Homo sapiens: one gene and its partners. The protein of the gene in region 3 interacts with the protein of the main gene of each other region in a pairwise test. Each region holds a gene or a part of one and is shown on either strand. Other genes may lie near its edges.

Region 1 (5,774 bases), on a different chromosome or scaffold from region 3:
CACTTCCTTAGGAAGTGACCTTGGGCAAATAACTTTATATGAACCTCGATTTCCTCGTCTATAAAATGGAAATATTCCCAACATGCAAAGCCATGGTGAAGATTAGACAGCGTTTAATTACACACGCAAAACATCCAGCAGAAGGCCCAAGACACGACAGACACTATAAATGGGGGCTACAATTCTTTTCACTTTATGTCACTTTGAATGTCCCTGTGGTAGGATTCAAAGTATATCTCAACAAGACATACTCTGTTTTTTTTTTTTTGAAACAGAGTTGCTCTGTCACCCAGGCTGGAGTGCAGTGGCACGATCTTGGCTCAAAGCAACCTCCGCCTCCCAGTTTCAAGCAATTCTCCTGCCTCAGCCTCCTGAGTAGCTGGGATTACAGGCACGTGTCACCATGCCCAGCTAATTTTTCAACAAGCTATTTTTGAGGCTGATAAAACTTAACACTCCACTGTCCAACCTCACGCTGATCGTTCTTTTAGGTTGCTCATGCCAGCCCTATGGTCAGTATTTCTGTCTGTTCCAGAGAGGTTCATCTCTCTTTTCCTCTTCCTTTGAACACCACCTCTTCCAGGGATCCTTCCCTGACACCCACAGCTGTCTGCATTGACTTCCAACATAACTCGTAACTCAATGAATTAAACAGCTGACATGTCTCCCCACTGGACTCCCGATGCGAAAAGCCAGCATGCAGACAGATGCCTTCCACCCGGGCCCTAGTGTCCCGCACGGAGGAAGTGCTCTGAGAAGGGGATAAATGAACACATGATCTGTTCCAAGCAAAACATCCCTCCTCTGTGGCAGCTTCTCCAGTATCTCCACAGGGAAGCAAAACCCACAAAAGGCCAGAGTGGAGAAGCCAACAGACACTACCTGGTGCTCAAATGAAAATCTGGCGTAGTGGCTCACACCTGTCATCCCAGCACTTTGGGAGGCCAAGGCAGGCGGATCACTTGAGGTCAGGAGTTTGAGACCAGCCTGGCCAACATGGTGAAACCCCGTCTATTAATAATACAAAAAAATTAGCCGGGCATAGTGGCGCATGCCTGTAATCCCAGCTACTCAGGAGGCTGAGGCAAGAGAATCACTTGAATCTGGGAGGCGGAGGTTGCAGTGAGCCAAGATCGCACCACTCCACTCCAGCCTGGGTGACAAGAGCCAAACTCCGTCTCAAAAAAATATCCATGGAGGCAGATATTTTCTTCTCTCCATTTTTTTAACTTTCTCCCCATTCCCTACCTTCTCTCAACTGCCTATCCCTCCCCCAGTTTTACAACATGAAATGAAAACAGCAAATCTCTCTGAAGCATGTTTTTATTTCTCTGTGATTTGGTTTTCTACTTTGGTACACATGAGCTGTGGCTGCATTTCACACAGAAGCTGACACATCTCGCAGGAATGCCCCATAAAACAGAGCGCAAACAAATCACCCAGCAGGTTCGCTTCACCTGGCTGTTACTGCTGAACTCCCTACTTCTAAGAGCACAGAAGAGAACATCGCTTTGAATCTACAGATAAGCGAGGGTGGGGCGAGCAGCAGCCAGGGCTGCCGGGATGGGAGCGGCCACAGACACAGGCCCCCGGGTGTCTGTCTTGAGATACAGGTGGAGAAGCCGCCCAAGAAATTCCAGCAAGATGGGAGCAGCTGGGGGATGCTCCAGCACAGTAGCCTGCCTATAGGACTCCTCTGGCTCCCTCAGTCCTGGTAGATTCTGGCATGACACCAAGGCCAGCAGTGCTGGCTCTTGGCCCTGTCACTGTGTCTGTTTTATCCTGGGGCCCCACAGCCCCTCTCCTGGGCAGGAGCTCCGCCCCTCCCCTTTTCATCACCCCCTTGGTCCCCAGCAAACCCACAGCGAGACCTACACAGGTTTTGCCCAGCTCTAAAATGTCTTGCCCTCAAAGGCCTGGAGATTGAAGGCAGTATCCAGAAACTTCTTCAGTGACACCAGGTGAGTGTTCCTGTTTCCTGTGGCTGGTGCAGCCGCTGGGTCCCGGCCAACATACCTGGAGGAGGAGAGACAAGCTAAGGGGAAGGCGGGGCCTAGCCGCCCCCCAACCGCTGCCCTCACTCCGGGACTGCAGGGGGCACGCATCTGAGAACCGCTGACCTCGAAGCCATAGACCCTGCCTTTTGGCCCTGGCACCACTTCCAATGAGCTGCAAAGCCCGGATCAAACTCAGTCACCTAGCCACAGAAGAGTGGGGAGAAACTGTCCCTCCATGTCACTGCACTTGCCCATGAGGACAACAAATGAGGCAACAACTCAAAGACTTTGGGGACAAACATACTTTTGGCTTCTTGGAGTTTCTCAGGACCCTCTCCCATCTTCCCAGGAACACATGATGCCAGTATTGGGAACGCACCATGTGCCAGAGCTAATACATACATCAGATCTAATCTTATCACCGCCCTTTGTAGAGATGCAGGGACTAAGGCTCCAAGGACTACATAACCGGCCTAAGATCTAAGGCAGGAGTTTTGAGACATGTAGCAGGTTCCTTAATACAGTTCTGGCTGCAGAACAAACACAAAGCCAGTACTGATGATGCCCCATCATTGCTCATCACCAGAGAAGGGCAGGGCCAGTTCTGGGTAGCATGGCCTATGGGACAGATGGAGCCAGGACAGAGCCTCAGGGCCGAGGTGAGGGGCAATCAGCGGCCCCACCATGTACCATATGGGCCGTGCGCGCCTCAGGATGGTCATGAAGCGTGGGCTGATGTAGTCATAGTAGCCCATGTTCTTGTGCTCCTCCTGACACCAGGCCAGCTCCGCACCTGGGTACTTCTCTGCCTCCTGCTTGATCAGGTCGAAGGGGAATGGAGAGATCTGGGGAGGCAGAAACAAAGGAGCATAGCCAGAGGAGGGGCGGTATGTCCCCAGCACCCCCGGACAGGAGGCACAGGGCCTCACCGGCCTTCATCTGGCCTGCCTGGCACATTGGCCAGAGCCGGGGCCAGCGACGTGAGCTTGCCCATCACTTGACTGTACAAGGGGTTCAGGCACACCTGCTCCAGGCGCGTGATGGCCACTTTCTCCTCCAGGTCCTGGCTGCTCCGCTCCTTCACCAGGTCATAGTACACCTTTCCCGTGCAGAAGATGAGCCGCTGCACCTGCTCAGGGGCCCGTGCTGCGGCCCCATCTTCAGGAATCACCCGCTGGAAGCTGGTCCCTGAGGGACCAACAGGACATGGCAGAGGCGTTGGTACCCAGAGGGGCTGGGGCAGCTCAGGACCAGGCCTGCATCCCCAGGCTCTCCTTAGCCACTGACACTAACTGCAGGTTTGGACTTGTGGCTGCAGTGGACACCTCTTGAACTAAAAGATGGAGCAGGGGGCAGATGACACCCTGAGCTGTCATAGGGAGAGGGGTGGAGACACCCAAGGGTTGAGCCCTGGAAGCATCACGTTTAAGGTGACCGGAGGTGGGGGTACAATAAGAAGCGCCCTGAAGGAGACAGAGAAGGCAACATGATGGCATCATCCTTTGCCCCAACCTTGCTTCTGCCCAGCTGCGCCCACCTCCTGCAGAGCACTGCAGTCCCCCACCACTAAGCAGATGTCCCAGGAGGCTGCTGCATGCTCCTCCTCTTTCAGCCTGGCAGCTGAGCTTCACCTCCAAGCCCCAACCATTCTTCCTTCCTGAGCCCATGATCCTGACCCCAGGTCACGCACACTGCAAAACCTCTCAGGAAGCTACTGTAGTGTCCTCACATCCCTGCATCTCAGGTGAAGACTCTGGGGTAGAGAGGACAAATGGATCCCAGGCCCTCAAGAGAGAAGCCAGCACAGGGCAGGTAGCCCAGGTAGTCCAGTCCCGACATCAGAGCTCTAACAGCTGCCCACCTGCACAGAGGGGACATCCAAACACACATGGGAGAAAATCCAACCCCTGTCCATGCTGAGGCCCTTCCCAGCCCTCCCTCTACTGCCCAGGACCATTTTCCAAGACAGCTCTGCTCCACCAGCCTCACACCTGTCCTTCCCTGGACATAGTCACCTCTCAGTTGCAACTATAGTGTTTTATCTGATCTGACTCCCAGGGAAATAAGGCCAAAGACTCCTGGAGGGGACACCAGGACCCCAGGGCCTGTAATGTCTGTTTGGCTCATGAATTTTTAAAATGGACAAATGAATGAATGATACTCAATATCTTGCGAACTCAGCAGGCCTCTGCCAGGCCTCGACCAGCCCTGCTAGGGTCTAAGGGGGCCCCAGTGGACTCTACCATGGACGCAACCCACATGACCTGAGCTGGCCCAGGTCAGCCATTGTGCCAACCTCCCAACCCTACTGCTAGTGGGACCATGCCAGGAGCTGCTGCAGGTCAGCAGAGCCACAGGCAGAGGGGAGGTTGGAGAAGCCCCAGAAGCAGAAGCCACACAATGGGCCACCGCCCCATTGTGGGCTACCCCACACACCCAGGCCAGGCACGTACCGGATACCATTTGGTCAAAGCTGGACTTGGCCTCTGGGTGCCTCAGCAGAGATTTAGGTGTGAAGATAATCAGCTGGAAGGGAAATACACGCCCAGCTGCCAGCTGGCCCTGCCTGGCCAGGCCCCCTGCCTGTGACCCCTGCCCTGGGACGGAGACTCACCGGCTTGCGGAAGGGCAGCAGGATCTGCCGGCGCAGCACGTGGAAGTAGTTGGCCGGTGTGGAGCAGTTGACCACGATCCAGTTGCAGTCATAGAGCTGGCTCACCTCGAAGTCCTTGGTGAATGCCTGTGGGGACGAGATGCATATGGCCAGGGTGGCTGTCTGCTGCACCCACACCCTGGACCCCTAGCCCTGTGGGCACAATAGGGCGCGTCCCTGTCCTGGGGACAGCAGCAACACTCACAGGGTAGGCATCCGAGTCATCATTGCTCATCTGCAGGAACCTTTCGGGCCTCGCTGACGAGTGCTCTGGGCCCTGAAAGCAAACGCCAGACAGCCAAGGCTGGACCCCACCATGGGAAAGACATCTGGCCCTGCAGGGACCCCAGGCTCAGGGGAAAGTCTGGAGGGCTTCTCAGCAGAGGTGCCCTCACCCTGGAGCCTGAACCATAGAAAAGAACCAAGAATGTGGAACAAGAGCAGAATGGGAATCCTCAGAGTGGGGTCTGCCCAGAGCTAGCACAGTATGTGAACTTGCAGGGACAGAAGAAAAAGCAAAAAGCCCGCACTGAGACGTGCTTTCTCTGGAATGTCCTGGAACAGTGGCTGCCACTGACTGAGCACCTGCTGTACAGGAGGCAGAGTTCTAGGAATCCCACACGCCTTATCGCTAACCCCCAAAGTAGCCCCATGATGCAGACACTCTTCCCCACTGCACAGATGAAGAGGCAAGGAGAGGGTAAGAAACCACCCATGACCACACAGCCAGGCAGGGGCCAACCCAACTCGGCCTGGGCCTCGCCCACCCTCACCCACACGGACCGCTCTGCTCCATGAAAGCAGCAAGACAAGCCCAGGGGCATCTCCAAGCCAGCTCCTGCAGGACGGGGATGACCCACTGCACAGCTGCCACTTGCCCTCTCTTGGTGGGGACGGCCAAGGACCCAGCCCCCCACACCCAGCCTGGCCCAGATCTGGCCTCCCAAGAAGCTGCCTTCACGGCAGGCAGCCCCAAGCAGGGAGCCTCACCTCCCTCCTCACTGATACCCGGTGTTGTGAGGATGCCGAGTATGCAGCCTGTAAAGTGCTCATAACATGCCACTCAGGGATAATGGTGGCAATGAGCCCCCTGCCTGTCTCCCTTCTGCCTGGTCAGGCCACCT
Region 2 (4,768 bases), on a different chromosome or scaffold from region 3:
TTGAGCAAACACACCTTTTTCCTTGGAAACCATTTCACTGCTGGGCTTACCTTAAATGAAGCTCTTATCAGTTTCTGTCCCTCCCTCTCTCCACCAAGGAAAACTTTTTACTTTTTTTTTTTTTTTTTTTGAGACGGACTCTTGCTCTGGGCGAGATCTCAGCTCACTGCAACCTCCACCTCCCGGGTTCAAGTAATTCTCCTGCCTCAGCCTCCTGAGTAACTGGGACTACAGCAGCTGTGATTACAGGCATGGTGGCCCAGCTGATTTTTGTATTGTTTTTAGTAGAGATGGGTTTTCACCATGTTGGCCAGGATGGTCTCAATCTCTTGACCTCGTGATCCGCCAGCCTGGGCCTCCCAAAGTGCTGGGATTACAGGTGTGAGCCACCGAGCCTGCACCACCAAGGGAAACTTTATGTAGCCGGCACTGTCTTCCTAAACGTGCTGGGCCCTGGTGAGTTGAGTGAAGGAGTCCATGAGGCCACAAGAGGGCAGCAAATAACATAAAACTCATCAAAACCCTAAAACTACAGGCCTCTAAAATTGGCTTCTGTGTGGCCATCTAATCCTAAAGAAAGTCATTTATTGATGTCTGCCAGGCGTGCGACCCAGTGTAAGGTCAATGTGTGAAGAATTAGAAGGCAGAGTACAGCCTGCCTCTTTGAGGTGGGGTTATATGTGTTACCTTATCCAGACATAGCGATCTCAGATAACAGGCCAGGAGCACCTCTTGTTAACAGTTCTATGTATATGGAGAGGTAGCTCCGATGTTGTGAAAAAGATGCTTCCTTGGTTAAAATATGAATGCCAAGAGATTATTTCATTTATGTCTTCCTAGCACAGCGCCGGTCACCGGGAAGGTACTCAGTAAATGTGAATGAATGAACAGACACGGTACTGTCTAAAATGAACTCACCCCTAAAGGCGACAATGTTTTCAAACGTTAGTTATTTGGGCTAATGCAGGAATATTTCACGCTTTTCAAGACATTTCTCTATTTCCATGTTAGCGTTGGAGTCAGGCACGCGTTAGTAACATCGTTTCCCAGGCAGAGACTCAGCTGCAACCGAGGCCTTGACCGCCCTGGGAGGAATTTTCTGCCCATGTGTTTTTCATTTGGCAACAGGTTCGCCGGTCACGTCAGGTTACTACGGTGTCAGAAGATCTTTCTTATCTGACTCAGACTTCCACAACAGTAAACAGTTTTCAAATGACGTCTACACCTCCAGCGTGGGGAAGCCGTTTCCCTGTGAGTCCTCCGCAGGGCAGAGCCATGCGGCTCTCCTGGAGCCCTACTTCCCCCAGGAGCCCTACGGAGACTACCGGCCTCCGGCGCTGACGCCCAACGCGGGCTCTCTGTTCAGCGCCTCGCCCCTACCGCCGCTCCTGCCACCGCCCTTCCCCGGAGACCCAGCTCACTTCCTATTTGTGAGTATGCAGAGACCTCGTGTGAGGGAGTAAAAGAGGGGCGAGGCTCGCCCTCTGGCCAGCCGCTGTGCTTGGCATCCGGGTTGAAGCCAGGTCTGGCTCACCCTGTAGACTCCAGAGGCTGCTTTGCAGCTGCCTAGAGATGCCAGGACACCCTCCGAGGGAGCCTTGTTCAAGGATCCCTGTTAGCCATGACAGCCAGGAGCGTCTACGCAGGGCTTGGAACCGGGAGGAATGTGCAGCAGGATTTATATCCATTTTGTTAATGCTCTACTGATATTGCCTGATGTTCCCCCACCCTGTTAGTGCCAGTCGTCATCATTCCTGCAGCCCCTAAGGAAGGAACACTGAAGCTGCATCTCAGACATGCTAGGCAGTAATGAGATGGATCATAATCTCCCAAGGAGGGTACATAGGGCTCCTCTTTCTTTCCAAGTCCCCTGCCTCCCCTTCCCCACATTTTTAGCCTAAAAATCCTTGTTCTCTCTCAATCCTTCCAAACAGGTGAGTTCATAAAGATCTGAAGATTGCTAATGCTCATAGAGAATAGTAAAGGTTTCTACCACAAAGTAATGAAGCTCTAAAGACAGGAGTTTAGACAAAAGGGAGAGGATGAGAATTCACATTATTAAGTATACTCTATGCCAGGAAATGTGATGTGTTCATTCAATACTTGCAACAACTCAGGATATATTTATGAAAGTCCCATTTTACAGATGAGCAATGTCGGGCTCAGAGTCAGGAGGAGCCACGAATGAATCCAAATCTTTCTAGCTCCAAACTTACGGGATTCCTACCTCTTTCCTCCTGCTTTAATGAGGACAGAGTGGGCTTCTCAGTCCCCTCAAAAATTCACCATGGAGTTGAAGGCCTACTCCGAGGAGTGGGCCAAGCGCTGACCTTCCCCACTGTGTAAATGGCATTCTAGGACCCAGACTAATGGGAGACTCAAAAAGAATCCAAGACAGAGTGCATTGCACACAGTAAAATGTTGCATACATGTGCATTTTATTAGTCTCACATTTCACTCATTTAATGTTGTCTTCTGGGAAAAGGAATCTCAATATCTATAGCAAATCTAATTCTAGAGTAGGAAGGGAGGAAAACTTTCACTGCTGGTGTCAAAAGCCGGAGAGAAGAGCAGCCTGAGAGCCAGGCTTCAGGCAGCAGAGAGAGGGGACGAAGGCTGCCCTGAAGCCACAGTCTGGCAGCACACAATGTATCATCAGAGTGTCACCTAGTGAATAACCTCCGTGGCCTTTCCATTCTCCTCAGAGGGACTCATGGGAGCAGACGTTGCCTGACGGTCTCAGCCAGCCTGACCCTGTGTCTGCCGATGCCCTGCTGACCTTGCCACCCAGCACGAGTTGCCTCTCCCAGCTTGAGTCCGGGAGCATCGCCCAGCACAGGGGCTCAAGCTGGGGGTCATCCCTGGCTGGGGCTCAGTCATACTCGCTGCATGCTCTGGAAGATCTGCACCACACTCCGGGGTACCCTACCCCGCCTCCTTACCCCTTCACCCCTTTCATGACGGTGTCAAATGACCTACCGCCCAAGGTGGGGCCACTCTCCCCAGATGAGGAAGCAGACACCGGTTCCCTCCATGACCCTTCCCCTTGGGTGAAAGAAGATGGGAGTATTGCCTGGGGGTCATATGAATGCCGCAGAGCTTATTGAGGGGAGGGCCAAATGACTTCTGGGTTTTTCTTTAACTTGAGGTGTATTCCAAAGATTGTTTTAGGTGTGTCAGCCCATTCAGGACTGGATTTTCAGAATAAGCCTCAATGCTGCTCTTTGTTAGTGGACGAGGGCATTTATTTGTAATCCTCTCCACTGTAACCCCACTGAAATAAAACAGAATGTTAATTAAATGTGTCAGAGACCGTATTCTAGTAAGATAACCTTACAATGTGGTCTTTTTGGAACTGTTGTAACCCATTACGTTCTGAATCTTCTGTTATCTTTGAAGTATCATTTTTGGCACTGATTTTTCTTAAATTACATTAAAAAGTTTATGCAGATCATAAAAGATACTGATTTTCCTGTCAGATGTTTCTTAGTTTTAAACTATGTGTATTCTGCAGTAAAAGACACTGGATAGGATATAATATAGATATGACCACATAAAACTCATTTTATAGCATGTGACTTGAAAGAGTGAAGTGTTTCATATACATATATTTATGGCTTATTATAGTGACTTGTAAAACCCCAGTTAAAAAAAAGGTACAATCTATAAATATGTTATTGTCCATAAAATAGGATGAGATCAGGAAACTATGGCTTTGTACATAACAAAGTTATTTTTTGACTCTATCCTAAAGCCCAGAATGTCCCCAAATTAGTTCAATCCAAAAAAGTCCAAAAATTTTCTTTGATCAGTGATGGCCTTAATTAAACCAGACATTGTCTCTCTGATGGAATAAACCTACAGTTATCAGCATGAATGAGTAAAATAGGCATTCTGTAATCAAATGGAAATTTTTTTTTTTTTTGAGACAGGGTCTCACTCTATCACCCAGGCTGGAGTATAGTGGTGTAATCATGGCTCACTGCAGCCTCAATCTCCTGGGCTCAAGGAATCCTCCTACTTCTGCCTCCCAAGTAGCTGGGACCCAGGTGTATGCCACCATGCCCAGCTAGTGTTTTTATTTTTTACTTTTTTTTTAAAGTTTTTGTAGAGACAATGTCTTACTATTTGCCCAGGCTGGTCTTGAATTATTGACCTCAATCTATCCATCCACCATGGCCTTCCAAAGTGTTAGGATTACAGGCGTGAGCCACCACACCCAACCAAATTCATACCCTTTAAAGAAAATACAGAAAATAGGACTAAGCTGTTGGCAAGAAACAGACCACAAAACACCAAGAAGCAAAAGGACTTTGGAGAAGGACATATTGCCATGTGTGAGCCGATGGCTTGACAAACAGCACCTCCTATTTGGTGGCTTACTAGTCGGAAAAGTGCAGCTCTTACTATGTGTCAATGAAGATATTGACATCTGAAGCATGAATCTGTCCACATTGGATTGGTGTGGGTTCCTTTGCTAATTGGGTTCCCAGCATAATTCCAGCATGCCTATCTGCGGCCAAGCTCATCATACATGCCTGGTATACACTGAGACTTTGCAGATGCATGAGTGGAGGCCCCCGGGTTGTACCTGCACCCTTCTTCTTAGCTTCCTACCACCTGTCTTTCTGCACTTCATTCTCACATCTTTTCCACCCTCTGGTCCCTCCTGATCCAATGCCATTTCTCTCCATCTTCTGGAGGCCAAGGCCTTCATTTTCCCTCTAGTTGCCCAAAGACCCTCAACACAATCTCCATCACATCCTCT
Region 3 (3,500 bases):
TGGCTCATGGCCCCCTTCCTGAATCTTTAAAGCCAGCAGTGTAACATCTTGTTCCCTGCTGACCTCCTGCCTCCTCTTATAAGGACTTGCAATTACATTAGGCCCACCTAGGAAATTTGGGATACTGTCCTTGTCTCAAGGTCTTTAACTTAATCACTCATGCAAAGTTCCTCTGCCATGTAATGTAATCTATTTATAAGTTCTGGGGATTAAGACATTGACAATTTTTGGGGGGCTATTATTCAGTCTACCCCAACGAAAAAGAATTTTCTAGATTGATCCAATTCATCACAAAATATGTTAAGAAGGAGCAAGGACAGTTAGTGGATTTTTTTTTAAAAGTTCTTTAAATAAAAACTTGAGCAGTCTCTAAATTATTCTGGTTACAAAGTTGAAAGTGACCCGGAGATTATGTATATATAGTGTGTATATAGGGAAAAAGATAGTGGGGAACATGAGAAAAAGTTGAGTATTTGTAAATAAATTACTGTCAACCAGGCTTTTTTTGAAAATGGAACCAGTTATGAGCTTTCTTAGGTGCGGCAGAGCAGGTGGGGTTAGTCAGTGTAATTCTGTGTGAGCATGTGGGAATGGCAGGATCAGCCCTGGCAGACACACAAACACACATGTGGCCTTTAATCTGATAACAGCTGGTGGTTGGTTATTGGGGGATAAATGATGCTATAAATGGAAATAATTTAATAAAAGGATTAGAGAAATTCCGGAACAATTAGTTCAGAAAATGAGTAAGTGCTAAACTATTCAAGTGACAGCCTTAAATGTTTGCATTGGATGTTGAGAATAACCACAGTCGACTTAGAATTCTGCTTTTCATTTGGCACTTTTAGCTGCAGAGGCAAGACATGTCGACATGTTACACAACCTGTTGTGAGCTGTATTGCTAAATATTGCTCAATAATTCTTAAATCCAGAAGTCTGAGAATGATTGCCTTTTAAAGATGGATTAGATCAAATGGCAGGTTGTCCCCATAATGATGCTATCTTTACCCACTCGCATCCCAGGATGTGTTCTGAACATGAATTGAGGGGGGTGCTTCAGCTAGGCCATGGAAATGTATACAGGTCTTAGTAGGGTGTGTGAGCTGTGGCAGAGAAAATCTTGAGAATTGATGTTTTAATAAAAAAAGGGATGTTAAAAATAAATTGACAATCTCCAGGCTTGATCCAAGGAAACAGTACCTTTTAATTCTTTTTTTTTTTTTTTTTTTTTGAGATAGGGTCTCACTCTGTTGGTCAAGCTGGAGTGTCATGGCACAATCATGGCTCATTGCAGCCTCTACCTGCTGGGCCCAAGCCATCCTCCCACCTCAGTCTCTGGAGTAGCTGGGACTACAGGTGCCTGCCACCATGGCTGGCTACTTTTTATTTTTGTTTTTTGTAGAGGCAGTGGTCTCACTATTTTGCCCAAGCTGGTCTCAAACTCCTGGGCTCAAGTGATCCTCCTGCCTCAGCCTCCCAAAGTTCTGGGATTACAGGTGTAAGCCACTACCCCAGCCCCCACTGACTTCTTATGTCAAGGTATTTAATAGTCAGTGCAAACATGAATCTCATGATCTCATCCAACGGCTAACTCTGTCTCCTATATGTACACCCCCACACCGACACATTTGCCTATCAGTGCCTCTTTCTGGAAGACCTCAACCTTCTCTGAGTACAAACTCAGCCTATCTCTCGAGGTCAGAACAATGCCTCCTCATCTCGTAGGTGATGCCTTTCTAGATTGCCTCTCCTACCTCAGTTGAAGTAGTCTCTCTTCCTCGAAACTTACAGCAAGTTACCATGCTTGTGGAATGTGGGTCCTGCCTTGTTTATATGTGTTTATGTCCCATCCCAGCCTGGGGACTGCTTGAAGGCAAAGTCGGTATTTCCTTTATCTTTTTTGTTTTTGAGACAGAGTCTCGCTCTGTCGCCCAGGCTGGAGTGCAGTGGCGTGATTTCGGCTCACCGCAAGCTCCGCCTCCTGGGTTCACGCGATTCTCCTGCCTCAGCTTCCCGAGTAGCTGGGACTACAGGCGCCCGCCACCACGCCCAGCTAATTGTTTTTTGTTTGTTTGTTTTTAGTAGAGACGGGGTTTCGCCGTGTTGGCCAGGATGTTCTCGATCTTCTGACTTTGTGATCCGCCTGCCTCGGCCTCCCAAAGTGCTGGGATTACAGACGTGAGCCACCGCGCCCCGCCTTCCTTTATCTTTTAAGGCCCTCTATTACCTAGCTCAATGCACATAACAGATTCTCAATAAATACTTGCAGAATGAAGCAGGGAGGGAAGGAAAGACAGAGGGAAAGAAGAAAAGAAGAAGGAATGAGAAAAAGAATTTAAAATATTGTGAAGTTATCTGGGTACTTGAGGGATGGGATGTTCTTTAAGACACCTACCCCAGGCTGGGCACAGCAGGCTTACGCCTGTAATCCCAGCATTTTGGGAAGCTGAGGCAGGCGGATCGCTTGAGCTCAAGAGTTTGAGACCAGCCTGGGCAACATAATGAAATTCCATCTCTACAAAAAAATAAAAATAAAAACAAGCCAAGCGTGGTGGCATGTGCCTGTAGTCCCAGCTACTTGGGAGGCTAAGGTGGGAGGGTCGCTTAGGCCCAGGAGTTTGAGGCTGCAATAAGCAGTGATTATGCCATTGCATTCCAGCCTGGAGGACAGAGAAAGACCCTGTCTCAAAAAAAAAAAAAAAAAGACACTTCCCTCTAATTTTTGAGGAGAGACCTTCTGGCAGGCTGGGAGTTTGTAAGCATCCCTGAAAGACAGAACGGTTGAACTGTTGGTCCTGTCCTCTCTGGCTGAGTTTTTGGAGGGCTTGCCCACCATGCAGGCACCTTGTCTTTGCATTTATCTGTCCGTGAGCAACTATTTCCATACAAGGAGCTGAGCAGCAGCTGCCCTTCCAGCCCTCTTCACTCTGACAGATCACAGAGTCCAGCAGGGCTGCAGAGCAGAGTGAGAGGGGACCAGCTGCTGGAGCAGGGCACATTCAAGGCTGCAGGCCAAGCAGGTGGGCCTTGTAGCTGCATCCGCCCGCCTTCTGTGCTGGGAGCAGCGTCCGGCGTCAGGGACCCTTAAGAGAATAATATCCCTGTGAGGATAATGATCTCGGCCAGTCTAAAGGGTTGCTGTGAAGATTTTTAAAAAAACGAATCACTAAAAACATCTCTTTGAAATGGCAAAGTGCTGTGTAAGTGGGAGTTGATACCTTCTTGTGTGAATAGGAATGTAAGACTCGGGAGAAACGAGACTTGCTGAAGGTCACCCAGCTAAGACTGCCTGGGACAAATGCTCTTTCTCGGAATCCAAAAAGTGGCTTTAGGACTTCATGTTATTTGGACACTCTCCTGCACTAGGGGCAGTAAGGCAGGGGAGGGGTGGGCATTTCTTTTTTTTTTTTTTTTTTTGAGACGGAGTCTCACATTGTCACCCAGGCTAGAGTGCCGTGGCGTGATCTCGGCTCACTGCAAGCTCCGCCTCCCAGGTTCAA
Region 4 (5,737 bases), on a different chromosome or scaffold from region 3:
ATGTTCACTTCTACAACATGGCCATGGGAGAGCTGTGCTTATGCAAGAAACCAGCCTGCTAGATGTACACAGCTAAGGCATGTCAGGTATGACAAGGCCACCCAGAGGAGCACGCCAGGGAGATACTGGGGTCAGGGACTTGCCTCGGGAGTGGCCTTTATTTGGGCCCGGTAGTAAAAACCATCTGCTTCCCTTCTTGCTAGGACCCATGTGTTGGCAGCATCTCCAGCTCTTCCCAGCCAGCCAGGCCCCTGCCATGCTGGGTCGGCAACGTGGAGACATGGGCAAGAAGAGGCATGCCTGGAAAAAAGCAAATGGAATTAGTGGATAGAGAGCAACAAGCCCTAAACACATCAAGAAACACGTTTCGCAGGTACATCTGAGGTACACCACAGCACATGAGGCATGCGGAACAGAAATCCATATGGAAAGTGGCAATCTATGACTTCCGGAAGGATAAGGTAAACCTCCGGGAGGGGCAGAAGGAGAGGACAGTGAAGGGAACCATCCTTGGTGGATTGGGAGTTGGTTCAAGGCAACCAAAATGTAATTCGCCTTGATACATTCAAGTTAATTGATGCTTGTTCCTACACTAGACAACAGACTGGAAAAGTGTGGCTCAAGCCTGTAATCCCAGCACTTTGGGAGGCCGATGTGGATGGATCACTTGAGCTCAGAAATTCAAGACCAGCCTGGGCAACATGGTGAAATCCCATCTCTACCAAAAATACAAAAAATTAGCTGGGTGTGGTGGTGTGAGCCTGTGATCCCAGCTACTTGGGAGGCTGAGATAGGAGGATTGCTTGAATCTGGGAGGTAGAGGTTGCAGTGGGCTGAAATGACACTACTGCACTCCAGCCTGGGTGACAAGGTGAGACCCCTATCAAAAAAAAGAAAAGAAAAGAGTGCCAGGGGCCGGGAGCAGTGGCTCACACCTGTAATCCCAGCACTTTGGGAGGCCGAGATGGGCGGATCACGAGGTCAAGAGATCGAGACTATCTGGACAACACGGTGAAACCCCACCTCTACTAAAAATACAAAAATTAGGTGGGCGTGGTGGTGGGTGCCTGTAGTCTCAGCTACTCAGGAGGCTGAGGCAGAAGAATCGCTTGAACCCAGGAGGCGGAGGTTGCAGTGAGCCAAGATTGCGCCACTGTACTCCAGCCTGGTGACAGAGCGAGACTCTGTCTCAAAAAAAAAAAAAAAAAAAAAAAAAAGTGCCAGGTAGGTCAATCCTAAGGCGGCGTGTGGGATTCCAGGATGAGGCGTGGAAGCTTGGATAGTAATGCCGAGGGTGTGAAATTGTAATGCCACTTGATGCTGTGGGGTCAGAGGGATGAGGAAGTGTTTGGGCAGGGACAACCCAGAGGAGCTAAGGGGCTGTGGGACAGAAAAAGGAGATGCTAGTTCCAGAAAATGTTGTGGTCAGGGCCAGTTGGCCTAGGGGAGTTGTTGAGTCAGGGTTTGGGTTTTTGAAGAAGCCATTTTACTTTGTGGGCAAGGCTGAATGCAAAGGGGGCCTGTCTGCCTCCTGCTGCCATCAACATGCCGTCACTGCACCCAGGCTGTTCGTGCTGAGGAGCTCCTGCAGACCCATGCTGAGCTGCCCTCAGCCCCCCTCAGCCTCCTTCCTGTGCTTGTTGGCATCTAAAGTCCCATGCTTAACTCTAGCCTTGAACAGGATGGTCCACCGGGTGGATCACGAAAGGGAGCCATTAAGGATCTTTCAAGCTGGCATGTCCCTAATGTGGGCAGAATGGATCAGGCAGCAGGAATGCGAGTCCCTGGAGATGACACGCTCCACATGTGTATATAGGGCTGTGGTGCCTTTGGCCTCTTGTATCCACGCTTTAGAAAGCAGACTGAGGATCCTATTCAGGAAAATCCTGGACAAAGGAGGGGTACCGAGGGAACCTGAAGAGGGACCTGGAGACCCCACATTAGCTGATTTCTCATATGGTGGCTGAGCAAGTCTCTTTTTTTTTTTTTTTGGTTTTGTTTTGTTTTTGAGACAGAGTCTCACTCTGTTCCCTAGGCTCGAGCGCAGTGGCGCTGTCTCGGCTCACTGCAACCTCTGCCTCCCGAGTTCAAGCAATTTTCCTGCCTCAGCCTCCTGAGTAGCTGGGAATACAGGCATGTGCCACCACGCCCAGCTAATTATTGTTTTTTCTTTGAGACAGAGTCTCACTCTGTCACCCAGGCTGGAGTGCAATGGTGCGATCTCGGCTCACTGCAACCTTTCCACCTTCCGAGTTCAAGCAATTCTCTGCCTCATCCTCCTGAGTAGCTGGGATTACAGTCACCCGCCACCATGCCTGGCTAATTTTTATATTTTTAGTAGAGACGGGGTTTCACCATCTTGGCCACGCTGGTCTCGAACTCCTGACCTTGGGTGAACCACCTGCCTTGGCCTCCCAAAGTGCTGGGATTACAGGCATGAGCCACCATGCCCAGCCAATTTTTTGTGTGTTTTTAGTAGATGGGGTTTTGCCATGTTGGTCAGACTGGACTCGAACTCCTGACCTCAAGTGATCTGCTTGCCTCGGCCTTCCAAAGTGCTGGGATTGTATACAGGTGTGAGCCACTGCGCCCAGCCAAGTCTCAGCATTGATGGTAAAATGAGCTATAAACTTGGTAACTGGCTATCCCTAACTGCCTTCTCTTACTCATGCCAACTGCAGCATCTGCAACTCTGCTAAAGCCAGATCAACCCTGGAGGGCTCTGGGAGCACAATGTAGGCTGGAGTGACAGACCCCACACAGATATGCCAATCATAGGCCAAACAATGACGACCCCTTTCCACCTTCTCAGGAAGCAAGTCTGTCCACCAAGGTCTACCACCAACAGCCAAGAACAAAGGAAAAAGAAAAGGGCATCCACTTCCCCCAGAGGGGCAGAGACAGGTACCTTGCAAGGGGCTTGTGCCCGGTGAGCCAGGGTGCTTGGAGGGCAAAGGGGTAGGTGAAGGAGAGGTCCCAAGGTGGAGCAGCACCGTCCCAGCCAGGGGCCTTCAGGCTTGTGGCCACGCTGCAGTATTTGAGCAAAGGCATCCTGGGCCCCGTGGAGGATTCCATGGCCTTCAGAGGATCCACCTGAGAATAGGCACCACCATTACCTGAGCTGCAGCTTGAAGCAAGCAGTGGCCACCGGGGCGAGGCAGGGCTCAGCTCTGCAGTTAGCTGCCTCTGGGGACAGTTGAGTCCATGCACGGCCCTACCTGCTCCCACAAACTCTCACAGTTTCCTCTTTGAGTCACCTGCCTTGGGAACCTCCACTCAGGAAACAGGGAAGGGATTGGAAGAGCAAGTGCTGTGAGTTTAGAGCAGCCCAGCTTTAAATCCTCCCCTACAGCCTGCTGGCTGTGTGCTCACTTAACCTCTGCTCTCCAGTTACACTCAGGATAGAATACATGGAAAGCACCTGGCGTATTCAGCAGCTCAACTTATGTTAGTATTTTTCCTCCTTCCTCCTCCCCGGCCACCTACAAGGCTAGTTCTGGCCTCAGGCAAGCTGAGATCTCAGGGCCGTCCATCCCCTTTCCAGCCCTGTTCAGAGGAGACAGCTGCCACCAGGGCCCAAGATCAAGCCGCACTGCTGCAGCCCACCAGAGCCCCGTGAGGGTCTGCCCCTGCCCAAGTCCACAGGTCTGACCCCACAAGGACTTACCCACAGCCCCAAACTCCCAGCCTCCACCTCAGCCTCAGGCTCCTTCTGACAGTTGGGGCTCAGGGTCTCAGCCCAACCGACTCCTGGTTGCCACGCCGGTTACCATGGGTGCAGCCTGGGGACGCTGTCGTCTGTGGCCAGTGAGTGCACCGAGCATGCGGAGAGGGGGACAGGAGGCCTTGGGAGGTAGGGGTGGGGCAGGAAGTGATGGGGGAGGGGGTGTTCTCCAGGTTTCCCTTTGGAGAGAAGAGGAGGAGGAAGAAGGGAAAAAGGCCAGTGTAGCCTCAGTTCTCCAAAGCTCAGGCTGCTCCACTGCTGGAAGAGTCAGTGGTGGTGGGAAGCCCTCACGGATCCCAGGAGACTCCTGTGAGGGAGGAGCCACCTCCGCAGAAACTGAGGGCGTCCTCCCTGTACACACTAGAGGCAGGAATGGGGGAGCCACTGGCGGCCTGGGGACTCTAGGATAGAATTTGTCCCTAGTCTAAACCAAAATAACCAAAGGTGTGGGCCTGTTTGTCTATAACAGGCAGGACTCTGTTGAGGAGCAGAGGTGTTGTGACCATTTGGAGTGAGAGGTGTGGACACTGGCAACAAAGGAACAGAAGTCCAGATTCTGCTTGTGGGAGGGGCTCGTATTTGGAGGCCTCTGCCAGTCACTGTGCACTGGTTATATGCCTGGTATGCAGGCACGTTTGGATGTGTCTCCCCCACATTCATACCCCGCTTCTACCAGGTCCTGTTTCAGTTGGCAGATCCATGTGGATAGGGAGGCCAAAGTACCCACCTCCAGGGGTAGAGTGGGTGTCAGTCACCCCTTCCATCCCCGTCTGGCCCCAGGGGTTGGTCAGGCAGTGGCGTGTTCCTGAACCTCTCCAATCAGCAGGAATCTGGAGACTTTGGTTGGGAATCCTGGGATATAGGCTTTCTCTTTCTTCCTATGCCTGAATAAGAAAGCTGATAGTTCTGAGAGCCTCTGACAGCCTTTTGGGAACACTGAAGCTATTCCCAGAGAAAGAGAGGATAGACCTCAGGAAATAGAGGGTTGGTTGGTTTGTTTGTTTTGAGACAGGGTTGCCCAGGCTGGCCTCAAACTCCTGGGCTCAAGGGATGCTTTTGCCTCAGTCTTCCAAGGAGCTCGGACTACAGCCATGCACCCCAACGCCCAGCTGAAAATAGGTTCTCGGTGACAGTACTGAGTCCTGCCTGCAGGCAGTGCTGCTACTCTAGGCCTCAGCTCTGTGAGCCAATAATTCCCCTTATTGATTATGCCACTCTGGATTGGGCTGTTTCTTACTTGCAACCAAAAGCCTCTTAACTGATGACTGCCCTCCCGAAGCATCACTTCATAGTCAGGAGAATGACTGCTGCCCAGGACCGTATACCAAGGCGGAGTTATTTGGCACACAGAGAGTCTAAGAAAGACCCATGGCCGGGCGCGGTGGCTCATGCCTGTAATCCCAGCACTTGGGAGGCCAAGGCAGGTGGATCACGAGGTCAGGAGATCGAGACCATCCTGGCTAACACAGTGAAACCCCGTCTCTACTAAAAATACAAAAAATTAGCTGGGCATGGTGGCACACGCCTGTAATCCCAGCTACTCGGGAGGCTGAGGCAGGAGAATCGCTTGAACCAGGGAGTCAGAGGTTGCAGTGAGCCGAGGTCGCGCCACTGCACTCCAGCCTGGGTGACAAAGAAAGACTCTGTCTCAAAAAATAAAAAATAAATTAAAAAATACCCGTGAAGTCTCTGGCAGTGAAAGAATGATTCTTGAATGAGACAGTGGGATTTCAGTGGAGGAGGGGAAAAGGAGAATATTCTAGTTTAGGTAGGAAGTAAGAGAGAAGAGAGAAGGATACATTTGCGAGACTGTGATTTTCTGTTTGGGGGAAATGGGTTCAGCACATGCAAAATCACATTGAACTTGCTTAGGAGTCACATTAAAGCAGACTCACATCAGAGTGTGGGTGTGAGAGTAATCCTGCTTATAGATTACAGAGGCATCATCGCTAATCCCATCAGATGTTATCTTACATATAGGAAAAGGCCAAAACTCGGGTCATTTATCTTTTA
Region 5 (4,749 bases), on a different chromosome or scaffold from region 3:
TCCCAGGGTGACCTTGGGTCCTCTGACTACTGAGCTGTTTGGAGGGCTGATGCCCAGTCACCTTCCAAGTGGCATCCAGTGGGATTTCTGAGAGGTTCTTCCCTGGGTTCTCAGTGACGTGAGGAATGAGAGGAGTTAGAAGATGGGGAAGGAGGAGGGAAAAGGTGAAGAAATAGCTATGATCGAGCCAGACCCTGCAAACCTGGCCCTGGATCTTCTCAAGTCTCCATTGCCCATAGGCCTCCTCCCCTGTGTCCACACCTGGGGTTTCCCCCTGAGTTGGTATCACAGGACGTGATGTGGCCCCGGGGAGAGAACATTAGTGTGGCTGCCCTCACATGGCCAGGATGGGTGAGGATCAAGTCATAACCACCCTTCCAGGGAGCTGCTAAGACTTAGGGCCATGGCTTGGGGCTCCTGGTGCTCACTGGCCTTGTGGGGGACCCACTGACTTTCAAGTGTAGATGTGGATGTGGGACCAGGGTTGCTATGGGGCAGTGGGCTCAGCTCTGGGCTCTGGGATCCACAGGAGATGAACAACTACCGGCGGGCCATGCAGAAGATGGCAGAGGACATCCTGTCTCTGCGGAGACAGGCCAGCATCCTGGAAGGAGAGAACCGCATACTGAGGAGCCGCCTGGCCCAGCAGGAGGAGGAAGAGGGGCAGGGCAAAGCCAGTGAGGCCCAGAACACGGGTGAGGATGTGCAGGCCACCAAGGGCACCCGGGCTTCTGCCTGGGCCCAGGCTCCAGGTTGTGCAATAGGGTGGCTGGGAGCTTCTCCCAGATGTGCATGCTGCTGGACTCTGGCAAATAGGAGCCCCTCGCCCACAGACACTCACACAGTCCCTGCCCAGCTGGGTCCTCTCAGGGATGGGAAACAGAGAATCCAGTCCCGTCCCAAGCCCTCGGGCCAAGGGATATCTGCCTTCCTGCTACTGACCATGCTGATTTGAGCTGGGAGAGGCTTCCTCCCTGAGCCAGCTCCCCAACCCACCTAACAGTGTCCATGAAGCAGAAACTGCTGCTGAGTGAGCTGGATATGAAGAAACTGAGGGACAGGGTGCAGCATTTGCAGAATGAGCTGATTCGAGTGAGCTGGGGCTTGTGGGGGCAGAGGGGAGGGAGCTATGGTGGGGGAGCATCGGGGTGAGAAGAGTCTGGGAGGAGAAGGGAGAACAGGCACAGAGGGAATGGAAGCACGGAAGAAAGGGGGACCAGCCTGGTGGAGGATTCAGCAGAGGGGCCGAGGTGGACCCTCAGGGCCAAGGTGGACTCCCAGGCACCCATTCTCTCCCCTTCTCTCCTCCCCCATCTCACAGAAGAATGATCGAGAGAAGGAGCTGCTCCTTCTGTATCAGGCCCAGCAGCCACAGGCCGCTCTGCTGAAGCAGTACCAGGGCAAGCTGCAGAAGATGAAGGCGCTGGAGGAGACTGTGCGGCACCAAGAGAAGGCAGGTGGCAGAGGGGCTGCCCCCGAGGCCAACTGATGATGGCAGAGTAGGGAGCCCCTGGGCCAGCCCAGCCTCTGCTCTGCTCTCCAGGTGATCGAGAAGATGGAGCGGGTGCTGGAGGACAGGCTGCAGGACAGGAGCAAGCCCCCTCCTCTGAACAGGCAGCAGGGAAAGCCCTACACGGGTGGGTCCACACCCTGATGTGATCAGCTCCCCAGCTTCTGCTCCACCCCTGGAGGCCCTGCCTTCCTGGAGCCTCTCAGCTTCAGGAGAACCTGCGAAGAGGTCCCCTGCACTCAGTTATGTCTGTGGGCCTGGGAGACCCAGGATTGCCCTGCTCCCCTCCTCATTCAGGCGCCCCATCCAGAGATCCCCTGAGCTCCCTCCTTCCCTGGAAGCCCCTCAGAACACAATTGGGATGCAGTGTGAGCCAGGCTAGAAAGAGGGTGGACCTCCAGAGGAGGGCCCTGCAGACTAGCACAGCAGAGAGGGCCTTCCCCTGAAGAAGGGCCACCTGGGGCAACACTTCCCAGCTCCTAGCCCCAGGATCCGTCGAATTATTTCCCCATACCGCCAAAGATTCTGCCTCTGCAAAGCAAACAAACAAAAATACTTTGATTAAATCAATGATCTGGGGCCAGGCGCAATGGTTCATGCCTGTAATCCCAGCACTTTGGGAGGCCGAGGAGGGCAGATCACTTGAGGTCAGGAGTTCAAGACCAGCCTGGCCAACATGGTGAAACCCCATCTCTACTAAAAATACAAAAATTAGCTGGGCATGGTGGCGGGCACCTATAATCCCAGCTACTTGGGAGGCTGAGGCAGGAGAATCACTTGAGCCCAGGAGGCAGAGGTTGCTGTGAGCCAAGATTGTGCCACTGTACTCCGGCCTGGGTGACAGAGGGAGACTCCGCCTCAAAATAAATAAATAAATAAATGATTTGGAGGTTTTCTTCCCCATCGATATTAACCAAAAGCCACCTAAAACTGCCAATCAGCCTCTGATAAGCAGAAAGGACCAGGTAACACCATATCAGGCCAGCCCAAAGCAAGGGATTTCCCTGAGCCTGCCTGTGCAACCTCACCCAGGGCCCCTGTGTGCCCAGCCCTGTGCTTAGCCTTCACCGCTGAGGGTCTCAGGGGCAGGAGGGTGTTTCTAGGAGCCTTTAGAATGCAATGAAAGCTGGGCTGGCCTTTCAGGAAGCCTGAGGTCATCCAGGAGTCTGGATGAGACTGAGAAGGCAACCTAGGGAGGGGAAACAGCCAGATCAAAGGCCCAGGGAGTGAGAAGAATTCCAGGATCAGAGAAGGGAGGAAGAGAGAGAGGTGAGGAGCTGAAATACACTGAAGACAAATGAGGAGTTAGAGAGAACGTTGAGGTCAGGTTCTAAAGAGCCTAGAAGGACAGCCTGTGTGCACCTGATCCCACTGGTGGTAGGGAGCCATTGAAGGCTTGGGAGTAGAGGGGAGGGGTGGCAGATTGAAGCAAAATGCTGGAGCAGATCAGGACAGGGACATGGGAAGCAGGAGAGCCCATCTCACCAACATCTGTGGCCGTGTCTCTAGGCTTCCCTATGCTCTCAGCCTCTGGCCTTCCCTTGGGTTCTATGGGAGAGAACCTGCCGGTTGAACTTTACTCGGTGCTGCTGGCAGAAAACGCGAAGCTGCGGACGGAGCTGGATAAGAACCGCCACCAGCAGGCCCCCATCATTCTGCAGCAACAGGCCCTGCCGGTAAGAGGCCCTTGACCTGGGCCTGCCTATGCCGGTCACTGGGTGCCCAGAAATCACCCATGGTACAACCCAAGTTGAAGATCAAGACCAGGAGCTAAGCTTCCCAGGGTCTCCAGTCTGCCTGGGGGCTCCTGGAATCAGCTCTCAGGCCTTGGTCTTTTTCTCCTGCGGAATGTGTGTCCCCGAACACTTCACCTTTAACCTCATCTAGCATCCCAGGAGAAAGCAAGCCCCTTGTTGACCCTTGGTCCCTGAACCCTGACCCCTTTTTCACCTGGCTGGCCTCCACCTGGACCCTACACAGGCCTCTCAAAACTCCCTTCTGGAGCATTCCCTGGTCTTGGTGCAGCCTTGGAGAGCCCTTTTCCATCCCAGGTGGACCCCGGGGAGTTGGGAGCAGGAGGAGACTTGACAGAGAGGCTACAAGAGACGCATGGCCCAGGCCACTCAGAGTGCACAGAGACCCTGCCCGCACAGGTGGGTGGCCCAGGGCCCAGAAATGCCCAGGCCCTGCTCCACCTCTGAAGATGCTTCAGGGGCCCCTTGCTTTACATAAACCCCAAAGCAGAACATTTGGAATCACAGAATATTGGGCAGGGCAGGGGCACAGGAGAGTTTTCTCTCCATCCCAGGACTCGCCGGAGGTGAGTTCTGTTGAAAGCACACCTGACTCATGGACATCCAGGTAAAGTGTGAGGGATGAGGTCAACTGCCTCACAGGTTCTTCACTTCACTCAAAGACTCCCAGTGCGTTAATTATAGGGGGCTCCCTAATGCATTTTACATTAAAAAAAATGTTGTGTCAAAACTTCGTATTCTCAAAATCTGTGTGGGAAACAGCTGTGAAAAAAGCACATGCCAGACCCTGTTCTGAACTTCCAGAAGAGGGTTCGGCCCAGGTCTGACGCTCTGCCTCGGGAGCTCAGTCTGAACTCAGGCCTGACTGGTTTCTTCCTCAATACCTTATGGTTTCCCAAGCTCACACTGCCACAGCCTCCAGCTGGGGCCAAATGTGAGTTTGTGCTTTGCCCACAGGATCTCCTCTCTGGTACTTCAGACAAGTTCAACCTCCTGGCCAAGCTGGAACACGCTCAGAGCCGGATCCTGTCCCTGGAAAGCCAGGTGGGTGAGATGCAGGAGTTGATGAGGCTGGATCAGGCTCACCACACAGCCTATAACCAGGGCTCAGTGTGTGAGCAGAGTCTAGGCTCAATCTATGACCAGGATCAAGGCTTAGTGTGTGGCCAGGGTCGGGGTTCAGTGTGCAACCAGGGTCAGGGCTCAGTGTACAACCAGGGTTAGGGTTCAGTGTGTAACCAGGGTCAGGGTTCAGTGTACAACCAGGGTTAGAGTTCAGTGTGTTACCAGGGTTAGGGTTCAATGTGCAACCAGGGTCAGGGTTCAGTGTACAACCAGGGTTAGGGTTCAGTGTGTGACCAGGGTCAGGGTTCAGTGTACAATCAGGGTCAGGGCTCAGTGTACAACCAGGGTTAGGGTTCAGTGTGTGACCAGGGTCAGGGTTCAGTGTACATCCAGGGTCAGGGTTCAGTGTGTGACCAGGGT
Region 6 (5,091 bases), on a different chromosome or scaffold from region 3:
AAAGGATGGAACCATGTTTGCCTTACTGCCTTTCATCAGGAGCCATTAGGGTCAGCTGATGGCGATGCTAGACACACCAAAGCACATATAACTGTGCCACCAGGCCATATTCCCAGAAAGGGCCAACAAGTATGTCTTGAGGGTCTTTTAAATTCACGCCAACTCTGTCTACAGAAAACCTCTGATTTGCCTGCACAGTCATCATATGAGTTTCCTGTTGCTCCTGTAACAAATCACCACAAACCTCGTGGTTTTAATGCAAATTTATTATCTTACAGTTCTGGAGGTCAGGAGTCTGAAATGGGTTGGGAGGCTCAAATCAGGATCTCAGCAGGGCTGCATTTCTTCCCAAGGCTCTAGGGGAGACTCTGTTTCCTTGTCATTTCCAGCTTCTAGAGGCTGTCTGCAGTCCTTGACTCCTGACCCCTTCTCCCTCTCATGAAAGCTCATCACTCTGATCTCTGCTTCTGTTATCATAGCTTCTCCCACCCTCCTGCTTCCCACTGATAAGGAGGGAGATTATATAGGGCCCACCCAGGTAATTCAAGACCATCTCCCCATCTCAAGATCCTAAATTAATCACATCTGCAAAATCCTTTTTGCCATGTAAGTTAATGTATTCACAGATTCCAGGGTTTAGGATATGGATATTTTGGGGTGGGGGTGGGAACCTTATTCAGCCTACCACAGTAACCTTAAAAAGAAACAGAGAGAGAGAGAAAAAGGACCACATACCTGCCTCAATTGTAAAAGCATTTTTTTCCTCTGAACTTTGAGAGAAACATTTTTCAAACGTAATTTCTCCTTCATATTATCCTAAAACATAAAGGCATATTTTAATGCATTTAATCCATTTCTCTCCTTTTTCCCATTGGTTTGAAAAGTGGATGGTTCTGGGGCTGCAAACCAAACCTTGAGCCCTAACATTCTGTCACTTATTTTAGGTCCTTTTACTTCTACTCAAGCTGGGGCTGGTATGACATTTCATGACCAAGAAGCAGAGGACACTGGTTTTGCACCATGCAAATTTTATATTGCTTTCAAATTCAAGATTATTTGGGTGTATGCTACTGTAGGGGCCTTTCCTGACAAAATGATCTTACGATTTTTTGGTCTTGTATTCCCACGGTAGTTTACATAATTTTTATTACTGTTAACATATTAGGATTAGTAATAACCCTACCTTGTCTCCAGGATCTAAAGCTTGACGTGTTGTAAAAATCTCTGGAAATGAAGGTTACCCCCCAAATTCTCCTTTTTTCTCATAACAGCCCAAGGTCCATCTCCTGATAACAAAGGATCTCAAAGAGCTTGAGATTCACCCAGTAATCCCAGCACTTTGGGAGGCCAAGGTGGGTGGACTGTTGGAGCCCAAGAGTTCAAGACCAGCCTGGGCAACACAGTGAGACCTCATCTCTATAACAATTTTTTTAAAGGTTTTTTTAAAATTTTGAAAAAGAGATTTACCTGTCCTACTCCACAGTCACCTCTCTAGATAGGCTGGACCAGACCAGTCTCATACCTTTCTCAAGAAAATATATCAGATCTTGAAACAAATAACAAAACAAAAAACAGAGATCAATCTGAGGTACTGTTAGTATACCTCCTGCCTGGCTGGTGTTAGCCTTGATAAACACGCATTTATTTATTTATTTATTTATTTATTTATTTATTTATTTATTTATTTTTTCTGAGACGGAGTCTTGCTCTGCTGCCCAGGCTGGAGTGCAGTGGCATGATCTTGGCTCACCGCAATCTCCGCCTCCCAGGCTCAAGCGATTCTCCTGCCTCAGCCTCCCGAGCAGCTGGGATTACAGGCACAAACACCTCGCCCAGCTAATTTTTGTATTTTTAGTAGAGATGGGGTTTCACCATGTTGGCCAGGCTGGTCCTCCAGCTCAGATGATCCACCCGCCTCAGCCTCCCAAAGTGCTGGGATTACAGGCATGAGCCACTGCACCTAGCCATAAACATACATTTTAAAACATGCATATACACATACACTTTCAGGGATGCAAAGAAAATCCGCATATGTGGGCAACATTTATGGTGGACCAAAGGGAGCTAGGCTGCTTCACATGGATGATTTCCATAACATCCCTGTAAGAATGTTTTTTCCCTTTCTAAGCTCTGTCTGCCAACTTACCCTCCGGCGGTTCATGTCCTCAATGTATTTCATCACTTTCTGAGTGGCCAAAATACTCCCTTTCTTCTTGGATATGGCTTTTAGAATATCTTTTTCAAACTCATGCACTTCTCTCGAAACTTCACTCCATCGAATTTCAGCCTCCTCAATGATCGCCTGGGGGAGTCAGCACAAAGAGAGAAGAACGTTTCCAGCAATCTTCAAGGATGTGTCTTCTAAGAAAACCTAAGTTCCCAGGCCTCTTTGTGTCCCAAAATATTATGTTTCTTCTTAGTCTTAGGAACATATCCTTAAGATACAAACTTGACTATATCAATGTTATTAGTTAAAAGCATTCTTCAAAAAAATAGAATCCATAAAAAGAGAGCAAACAAAAACAGGTGTCAGGTATCTATCTTTTTTTTTTTTTTTTTTTTGAGACAGAGTCTCGCTCTATTGCCCAGGCTGGAGTGCAGTGATACAATCTCACCTCATTGCAACCTCCGCCTCCTCGGTTCGAGCAATTCTCCTGCCTCAGCCTCCTGAGTAGCTGGGACTACAGGCACCTGCCACCACGCCTGGCTAATTTGTGTATTTTTAGTAGAGAAGGGGTTTCACCAAGTTGGCCCAGCTGGTCTTGAACTCCTGACCTCAGGTGATCCGCCCACCTCGGCCTCCCAAAGTGCTGGGACTACAGGCATGAGCCACCGCGCCTGGCCAAGCTATCTATCTAAATATGTATTTCCATATTTGAAATTATTTATCCATTAAAAATATCTGGAAGGATATACATCAAAACATGAATGACAGTTACATCTAGAGAGATGGATTAGTGGGGAAATAAATAGGCACTCTTATTATATTTCTGTTATTAAAAAAAAAAAAAGACTTTATATTTCCAAGCCTGAGTATTGGGGGGAAAAATGGAAAAAAAAATAAAGAAGATATTATAAAGTCAGGTATGGTGCCTGTAGTCCCAGCTGCTCAGGAGGCTGAGGCAAGAGGATTGTTGGAGGCCAGAAGTTCGAGGCTGTAGTGTGCTATGATTGCGACCGCGAATAGCCACTGCACTCCAGCCTGAGCAACGCAGTGAGGCCCCATCTCTTAAAAATAAAAAAAAAGATGTTATAAAATGAAAATATGTATTGACGTAAAGAGATGTTGTTAAGTGAAAAATACAGTTTACAAAATAACATGATACTATTTTTGGAAGAAATTCATATATGCAGGCTGGGCGCGGTGGCTCACGCCTGTAATCCCAGCACTTTGGGAGGCCGAGGCGGGCGGATCACGAGGTCAGGAGATCGAGACCATCCCGGCTAAAACGGTGAAACCCCGTCTCTACTAAAAATACAAAAAATTAGCCGGGCGTAGTGGCGGGCGCCTGTAGTCCCAGCTACTTGGGAGGCTGAGGCAGGAGAATGGCGTGAACCCGGGAGGCAGAGCTTGCAGTGAGCCGAGATCCCGCCACTGCACTCCAGCCTGGGCGACAGAGCGAGACTCCGTCTCAAAAAAAAAAAAAAAAAAAAAGAAATTCATATATGCATAGAAAATTATCTAAACTGTAGGAGGTAAATGGAAAGTCAACAGAAATTACCTCTGAGTGGTAAATTGTGAATGTTTTCAAATGTTCTTTTAGCTTAACTGTATTTTTCAACATTCTACAACATAGATTGCCTTGAAATAAGAACACACACACACACATATTACTATAAAAAATAAAATGGAATGGTATCTCTAGCCAGACTGCAAATCATCCTAGTTCAGACTTTTTTTCTGAACACCAAGAGGCAAAAGCATTTTCACTGGCCGGCCTCAGGCTCCAGCCCCATCATCTCCACATGGTAGAACATCAACCCACCTGAAATGCTACTTTCAACACATTGCTCTCCTACTCAAGTATCCTCAGTGGGGTCCAGCTTTCTAAGACATCAAAGATAAACTCCTTGGCATGGCTGTCAAGAAATCATTGCCTTACTCAACCTGACTTCCTAAAGCAGCCTCCAAAGTAGCGTCTTCTCTAATCACACCGGCCTCCTCAATGTCATGCTTGTGCCCACCTCCACTGCCTTGCCCATGTCATTCTCCTTACCTGGGGTGCCCTTCTTTCCCTGTGCTTTAAACAGATGCCATCATTCTTCAAGATCATGCCAAGTCTCTTTTAAGCCCTACCTCCTCAACAAATTCTTTTTGACCACTCTAGCCCATACTGATCTCTGATCTCTGCACTTGATGCTCACATTGCACAACCTAGCGGGTCAGGATAATGCTACCACATCCCAAGCTCCTTTAACTTGCTAGAATTCAACAATGCATGTTTAGAAAGAGAGAGAGGAGGGGTGGGAGAGCAGGATCAGTTGATGTGATACAGACGGTTGCATCAATGGGAGACATGAGTCTACTGACTGGTCCCTCTTGAGACGAGTGTGATTCTGCGAATGCCCACATTTAGAAACAGAAAAATAGAAAACTTTAGAAATAGAACAGAAGTATCTACTTTTCATACAACATGGCTCTCAAATGCAAGCCAACAACGTCATCCTGTGGGCAACCGAATTAACAGTGATGTTTCTTCTCTGGAGGAAACTGACTGTATTGGACTCACTAAGAGACACTACTATATTGTTCTGTAACAGGGCACAAACCATGGGCACGTGTGCCGTATAGAAATGCTGACCTAGGGGCCGGGCGCGATGGCTCACGCCTGTAATCCCAGCACTTTGGGAGGCTGAGGCGAGTGGATCACAAGGTCAGGAGATCGAGACCATCCTGGCTAACATGGTGAAACCCCGTCTCTACTAAAAATACAAAAAAAATTAGCTGGGTGTGGTGGCGGCAGGAGCCTGTAGTCCCAGCTACTCGGGAGGCTGAGGCAGGAGAATGGTGTGAACCTGGGAGGCGGAGCTGGGATCGCACCACTGCACTCCAGCCTGGGCAACTGAGCAAGACTCCATCCCAAAAAAAAA

The links.
Region 1: the proteins of SMYD1 (region 3) and OGDHL interact in a two-hybrid assay, tested with the Homo sapiens proteins (one large-scale study listed by BioGRID and IntAct).
Region 2: the proteins of SMYD1 (region 3) and POU2AF2 interact in a two-hybrid assay, tested with the Homo sapiens proteins (one large-scale study listed by BioGRID and IntAct).
Region 4: the proteins of SMYD1 (region 3) and C11orf16 interact in a two-hybrid assay, tested with the Homo sapiens proteins (one large-scale study listed by BioGRID and IntAct).
Region 5: the proteins of SMYD1 (region 3) and CCDC33 interact in a two-hybrid assay, tested with the Homo sapiens proteins (one large-scale study listed by BioGRID).
Region 6: the proteins of SMYD1 (region 3) and CFAP263 interact in a two-hybrid assay, tested with the Homo sapiens proteins (one large-scale study listed by BioGRID and IntAct).

What each region holds. Positions count from the first base shown.
Region 1 is NC_000010.11:49,733,336-49,739,109, forward strand, and holds the end of OGDHL (2-oxoglutarate dehydrogenase-like, mitochondrial), read right to left. Parts: intron 4,928-5,774; coding exon 4,856-4,927; intron 4,738-4,855; coding exon 4,612-4,737; intron 4,524-4,611; coding exon 4,451-4,523; intron 3,186-4,450; coding exon 3,022-3,185; intron 2,843-3,021; coding exon 2,688-2,842; intron 2,017-2,687; coding exon 1,893-2,016; 3' UTR 1,306-1,892; downstream 1-1,305.
Region 2 is NC_000011.10:111,282,948-111,287,715, forward strand, and holds the end of POU2AF2 (POU domain class 2-associating factor 2), read left to right. Parts: intron 1-1,128; coding exon 1,129-1,430; intron 1,431-2,705; coding exon 2,706-3,107; 3' UTR 3,108-3,454; downstream 3,455-4,768. UniProt on the Homo sapiens protein: Transcriptional coactivator of POU2F3. This complex drives the development of tuft cells, a rare chemosensory cells that coordinate immune and neural functions within mucosal epithelial tissues.
Region 3 is NC_000002.12:88,074,325-88,077,824, forward strand, and holds part of SMYD1 (histone-lysine N-methyltransferase SMYD1), read left to right. Parts: intron 1-3,500. UniProt on the Homo sapiens protein: Methylates histone H3 at 'Lys-4' (H3K4me), seems able to perform both mono-, di-, and trimethylation. Acts as a transcriptional repressor. Essential for cardiomyocyte differentiation and cardiac morphogenesis.
Region 4 is NC_000011.10:8,929,234-8,934,970, forward strand, and holds the start of C11orf16 (uncharacterized protein C11orf16), read right to left. Parts: upstream 3,715-5,737; 5' UTR 3,668-3,714; intron 3,094-3,667; 5' UTR 3,076-3,093; coding exon 2,909-3,075; intron 301-2,908; coding exon 144-300; intron 1-143.
Region 5 is NC_000015.10:74,329,660-74,334,408, forward strand, and holds part of CCDC33 (coiled-coil domain-containing protein 33), read left to right. Parts: intron 1-529; coding exon 530-695; intron 696-1,003; coding exon 1,004-1,092; intron 1,093-1,321; coding exon 1,322-1,453; intron 1,454-1,543; coding exon 1,544-1,637; intron 1,638-3,019; coding exon 3,020-3,186; intron 3,187-3,561; coding exon of another isoform or gene 3,562-3,663; intron 3,664-4,221; coding exon 4,222-4,308; intron 4,309-4,749.
Region 6 is NC_000016.10:58,255,579-58,260,669, reverse strand, and holds part of CFAP263 (cilia- and flagella-associated protein 263), read right to left. Parts: intron 2,303-5,091; coding exon 2,147-2,302; intron 817-2,146; coding exon 736-816; intron 1-735. UniProt on the Homo sapiens protein: Component of centriolar satellites contributing to primary cilium formation. In complex with CFAP263, acts as a regulator of ciliary beating that connects radial spoke 3 (RS3) to the inner dynein arm (IDA) and the nexin-dynein regulatory complex (N-DRC).